Regions from separate parts of the Homo sapiens genome. Here region 2 is linked to region 1. The links come from fine-mapping of genetic effects on gene expression. A gene starts in region 1. The other region holds a variant in brackets. All regions are shown on one strand. Distances are from middle to middle.

Region 1 (2,908 bases):
TACATAACTTGTAAGTAAAAAGGTCACACTAGAATAGGCTGGAACATGGTTATATCATAAAATCCAAGTCCTAAAGTTTTATGACAGAGAAAGGGAATAAGCCTTTTCAAACCTGAATCCCTTACTAGAAACAAAGGCCCACTTGCTAAACAGGAGGAAACTGAAAGTGGTTTTAACAATTACCAATGACACTGCTTTGTTGTTTCCTTCCACAGTGCACAGACACATGTCTCTCACGAAGAATAACACGGGAGCTTTTCTTACAACGTGCATGTCAATTACATTTTGATTCACATGAAACCATTCTCGGGGAGTACAAGTCACTTTAAGTGTTACCTTTCTTTAAATGTGAACTAAAGAAAACTGTACTCTCATGAAAAAAGTTAACTGGAGCTGAAAATGCTAAGCAAAAACAAATTACTCAAATGTGCTGAGCAAAACAAATTAAGCCCACATGAGAAGAAAATTCCCATATTTTTACTTTGGCATAACAGGGCAAACTTCTTTGATCTTTTTGATAGGTCTGATGCATTTAAAAGATTATTTCAATAAGTGGCTTTGTATTAGGTTTGCCTTTTCTCTTTGAAAGGTAAAGATGAAGTGCAAGAGTTCTTAACCGGGATGTGCTTCAGCGTTTTGAAAACAGTGGAAGTGTACATCTGTATGCCGATATGTGTATGTATGTGTGTGTGTAAATTGTTCTGGGAGAGAGCTTTCTCCAGTTTCCCAAAAACCATTGGTTAGCAGAACGCACCAGCTGCAGAATAAAAAAGCTGGTTGGAATCTCGCCTCTGCCTTTTAATGGCCACGTCGTTTTTGTAATGGTGCTTATTCTCTGCCAGGTTCTCTCATCGACTACACGAGGACAGTCATACTATCTGCGATGTGAAGCTAATATGCAAAATTCACGGCACAGTGCCCACCCTAATAACCATCAGGATCCAAGGAATTCACATACAGTGTACACACGTTGTCATAGAAACAATCTAAACATAAAAACAATCTCAACAGAATGCTTAAAAACAAAAAAACCCGGTACCGATTATTTTACGGAGTCATAGAGGCATCAACGGCACTGAAAATGTATTAGCTGCATTCAGTTCATCAAGAACAATCTTCAACTCCCTCCACCTGACTCGATCATGCCTGACTGTGATGGAAACTGTAGTATTGTCAAGTCAACCGATGTTTGACTCGGGAGCGCATTTCGCAAATATTTTTCTTAAATATCACCTTACCGTATTTTTCTTAAGGTGGTTACAAAATTAATCTGCAGCCCACCACCCAAAGCTACAGTGCCGAAGGCCGTGTGATGAGCAGAGAAACTGAGCCTTCTACTGTTAACCAATATGGAAGAGAGTAATTGCGCCTGAGAGGAAATTACGGCAGCGGAAACGCGGGTATTCTACGTTTAAGAAATCCCCCAACTGAGGCAGAAAAAGGCCAAGTTATTTGTGTGATGCACGTGAACCGCCCGAGCTGGTCACTAATGAAGTGGATTCGCCCTATTCCTGGCGACTCTACAAGGTTGGAGACCCCCGTAGACTTCGCAGCCATCGCCCCTTGCTGCAGACCCCCAAAGTCACCGACAGCCTTACCTAGACCTGACCTTCCTCACCCACGCGCCCTCGTCCCGGAAGGCCCGCCCTCTACCCGGCTCCAAGCTCGCGCAGGCAACTATTACGGGGAGCAGTAGAGAAACGGAAGCTTGGCAGCTAGAGCGGAGCCCTAGTGAACGACCCGGAGTTACTGGCTCCCCCTCCTGAGGCCTCCGAGGTGTACCTGGCGCCTGCGCAGTAAGGCTAGCGCCGCCGCCTGTGCGGAGGACCCGGGGAGGTGGTGGGCTGGGGAGAGTTAGAAAGGTCTGGCTCTCCTGGAAGGGCATGCACGGTTCGGTAGTATGTTTTGGTGGGAATGGCTACAGACCTGCCTCCAAAAGCTCTGAAGCAATGGCGATGCGTGTGCCGTGTGGTCTTTCTGACCGACTTGCGGCGCCATCCCCCTCCCCTTCCATCTATCTGCTCATCTTCTAATAGTTAATTAGGATCCCTAGCTGCAAGCCTTCCTTGCTACTGGGTTAGGAGCGCTTTCCCCCATTGACCCAGGAGCTTCTTCAGGGAGTAGGGGATGGAACGTTTGTCTCCTCAGTAGTTATCTTAGACCTCGCTGGGCAGATAGTAGAAAGCATTGTGAGTATTTCACCCCATACTAAATCTGTTTTCAAGCAAGCCACATCCCATAGGCATTGTATGCAGCACTTACTCAATGTTTGATAGTTTGGGTGAGGAAACTGTACTCGTTTTCTGAGTATCGTTCAAGGCATTTTATAAATATTTCAAAATGTACCCTGGAATTAATATCGGTAGTGAGTTGCCTACCTAGTGGGTATTGTATTTACACCCTCTTTCCTCCTACAGAATTTACTTTTAAGTTAGAATTTGACGTCTAATCAATCTATGCTATAGGATTTGCTTTTATCAAGTTAAGTTTTGACATGTTATCAGCCTTATATGATATAGTAAACAGCCTTATAAAGTTGGGTCTAGTGACTACATTTAAGTTTACAAAGGGGTAATGAGTATCCTATACATGGCTACAGTCCAGAAAAGAAGTCCTAAGGAGCGAAACTCCTGGGAGAAATTTCGTCTTGTCTTTTGTACTTGTTTCTGTGGAGTTGGCTTGTTTTTATGTAATGGCCACTGAATCATATAAACAAGAAGACTTCCTTTACGTGTAAGCTGCTGGTTTAAAGCCAAATTTTAATTGGCTCGAGGCAAGAGCTATATATATGTGTGTGTATATATATATATACACACACATATATATATTTTTTGCATAAACCTTGTTGGCTTCGTTTTGTATATCCTTCCTGTTTTTTCCTTTTCACGTATGAATTATTGGTGTTATC
Region 2 (2,908 bases), 52 kb after region 1:
TTTGTCTCTTTTGATCTTTGTTGGTTTAAAGTCTGTTTTATCAGAGACTAGGATTGCAACCCCTGCCTTTTTTTGTTTTCCATTGGCTTGGTAGATCTTCCTCCATCCTTTTATTTTGAGCCTATGTGTGTCTCTGCACGTGAGATGGGTTTCCTGAATACAGCACACTGATGGGTCTTGACTCTTTATCCAACTTGCCAGTCTGTGTCTTTTAATTGCAGAATTTAGTCCATTTATATTTAAAGTTAATATTGTTATGTGTGAATTTGATCCTGTCATTATGATGTTAGCTGGTGATTTTGCTCATTAGTTGATGCAGTTTCTTCCTAGTCTCGATGGTCTTTACATTTTGGCATGATTTTGCAGCGGCTGGTACCGGTTGTTCCTTTCCATGTTTAGCGCTTCCTTCAGGAGCTCTTTTAGGGCAGGCCTGGTGGTGACAAAATCTCTCAGCATTTGCTTCTCTATAAAGTATTTTATTTCTCCTTCACTTATGAAGCTTAGTTTGGCTGGATATGAAATTCTGGGTTGAAAATTCTTTTCTTTAAGAATGTTGAATATTGGCCCCCACTCTCTTCTGGCTTGTAGGGTTTCTGCCGAGAGAACTGCTGTTAGTCTGATGGGCTTTCCTTTGAGGGTAACCCGACCTTTCTCTCTGGCTGCCCTTAACATTTTTTCCTTCATTTCAACTTTGGTGAATCTGACAATTATGTGTCTTGGAGTTGCTCTTCTTGAGGAGTATCTTTGTGGCATTCTCTCTATTTCCTGAATCTGAACGTTGGCCTGCCTTGCTAGATTGGGGAAGTTCTCCTGGATAATATCCTGCAGAGTGTTTTCCAACTTGGTTCCATTCTCCACATCACTTTCAGGTACACCAATCAGACGTAGATTTGGTCTTTTCACATAGTCCCATATTTCTTGGAGGCTTTGCTCATTTCTTTTTATTCTTTTTTCTCTAAACTTCCCTTCTCGCTTCATTTCATTCATTTCATCTTCCATTGCTGATACCCTTTCTTCCAGTTGATCGCATCGGCTCCTGAGGCTTCTGCATTCTTCACGTAGTTCTCGAGCCTTGGTTTTCAGCTCCATCAGCTCCTTTAAGCACTTCTCTGTATTGGTTATTCTAGTTATACATTCTTCTAAATTTTTTTCAAAGTTTTCAACTTCTTTGCCTTTGGTTTGAATGTCCTCCCGTAGCTCAGAGTAATTTGATCGTCTGAAGCCTTCTTCTCTCAGCTCGTCAAAATCATTCTCCATCCAGTTTTGTTCCATTGCTGGTGAGGAACTGCGTTCCTTTGGAGGAGGAGAGGCGCTCTGCTTTTTAGAGTTTCCAGTTTTTCTGTTCTGTTTTTTCCCCATCTTTGTGGTTTTATCTACTTTTGGTCTTTGATGATGGTGATGTACAGATGGGTTTTCGGTGTAGATGTCCTTTCTGGTTGTTAGTTTTCCTTCTAACAGACAGGACCCTCAGGTGCAGGTCTGTTGGAATACCCTGCCGTGTGAGGTGTCAGTGTGCCCCTGCTGGGGGGTGCCTCCCAGTTAGGCTGCTCGGGGGTCAGGGGTCAGGGACCCACTTGAGGAGGCAGTCTGCGCGTTCTCAGATCTCCAGCTGCGTGCTGGGAGAACCACTGCTCTCTTCAAAGCTGTCAGACAGGGACACTTAAGTCTGCAGAGGTTACTGCTGT[T/C]TTTTTGTTTGTCTGTGCCCTGCCCCCAGAGGTGGAGCCTACGGAGGCAGGCAGGCCTCCTTGAGCTGTGGTGGGCTCCACCCAGTTCGAGCTTCCCGGCTGCTTTGTTTACCTAAGCAAGCCTGGGCAATGGCGGGCGCCCCTCCCCCAGCCTCGTTGCCGCCTTGCAGTTTGATCTCAGACTGCTGTGCTAGCAATCAGCGAGATTCCGTGGGCGTAGGACCCTCTGAGCCAGGTGTGGGATATAGTCTCGTGGTGCGCCGTTTCTTAAGCCGGTCTGAAAAGCGCAATATTCGGGTGGGAGTGACCCGATTTTCCAGGTGCGTCCGTCACCCCTTTCTTTGACTCGGAAAGGGAACTCCCTGACCCCTTGCGCTTCCCAGGTGAGGCAATGCCTCGCCCTGCTTCGGCTCACGCACGGTGCGCGCACACACTGGCCTGCGCCCACTGTCTGGCACTCCCTAGTGAGATGAACCCGGTACCTCAGATGGAAATGCAGAAATCACCCGTCTTCTGCGTCGCTCACGCTGGGAGCTGTAGACCAGAGCTGTTCCTATTCGGCCATCTTGGCTCCTCCACCCGAGGGTGTTTCTTTGAGAGTGAGGAAGTCATCGTTAGAGGCTAGGCTGAAGCCCTGGGCAGGGTCTTATAGAGATGTAAAAGGTCTGAACTTTAAGGTACAGACAAAGTGAAACTACTGCAGAATTTTATTTTATTTTATTTTTAAGACAGACTCTCATTCTGTCACCCAGGCTGGAGTACAGCAGCATGATCTCCGCTCACTGCAGTCTCTACCTCCTGGATTCAAGTGATTCTCGTGCCTCAGCCTCCCGAATAGCTGGGATTGCAGGCCTGCACCACCATGCCTGGCTTATTTTTGTATTTTTAGCAGAGATGGGGTTTTGCCATGTTGGCCAGGCTGGTCTCGAACTCCCAGACTCAAGTGATCTGCCCTCCTTGGCCTCCCAAAGCTGGGATTCCAGGCGTGAGCCACTGTGCCCAACCCTACTACAGGATTTTAAAGGATAACTGTGGAATTTAAGAAGATTAATATGGTGGTGGGGTGGAGGAAGATGAGGAAGAAGAGAAGGAAGGTAGTTAAACTAATATGACTCTCTAAAGCTGACTTTTTTTTTTTTTTTTTGATACTGAGTCTCACTCTGTCACCCAGGTTGGAGTGCAGTGGTGTGATCTTGGCTCACTGCAACCTCTACCTCTTGGGT

Which allele goes with the higher level. Alleles are on the strand shown, and positions count from the first base shown. SD is a standard deviation of normalised expression in the study named.
For the expression in monocytes of the gene that starts at base 1,640 in region 1, allele T in region 2 goes with a higher level than allele C (large effect, 1.5 SD a copy in BLUEPRINT).

What was found. PIP is the estimated chance that this variant, and not a neighbour inherited with it, causes the effect.
Region 2: its variant is the best candidate, but not a certain one, in a credible set for the expression of MRPS33 in monocytes (BLUEPRINT, PIP 0.71).

The regions. Positions count from the first base shown.
Region 1 is chr7:141,013,313-141,016,220 of GRCh38, forward strand. It overlaps MRPS33 (mitochondrial ribosomal protein S33), which reads right to left and starts at 1,640. Exons shown (of 3, transcript NM_053035.3): 1 at 1,599-1,640. RefSeq lists enhancers at 79-148, 1,291-1,936, 1,399-1,448, 1,969-2,168 and a silencer at 1,513-1,821.
Region 2 is chr7:141,065,778-141,068,685 of GRCh38, forward strand. All of the region lies in intron 2 of LOC105375537 (a long non-coding RNA gene), which reads left to right. Among named protein-coding and RNA genes, the nearest start is that of TMEM178B, 6.8 kb to the right of the region's middle. RefSeq lists an enhancer at 1,342-1,936. The variant T/C (reference allele first, on the strand shown) is at 1,686.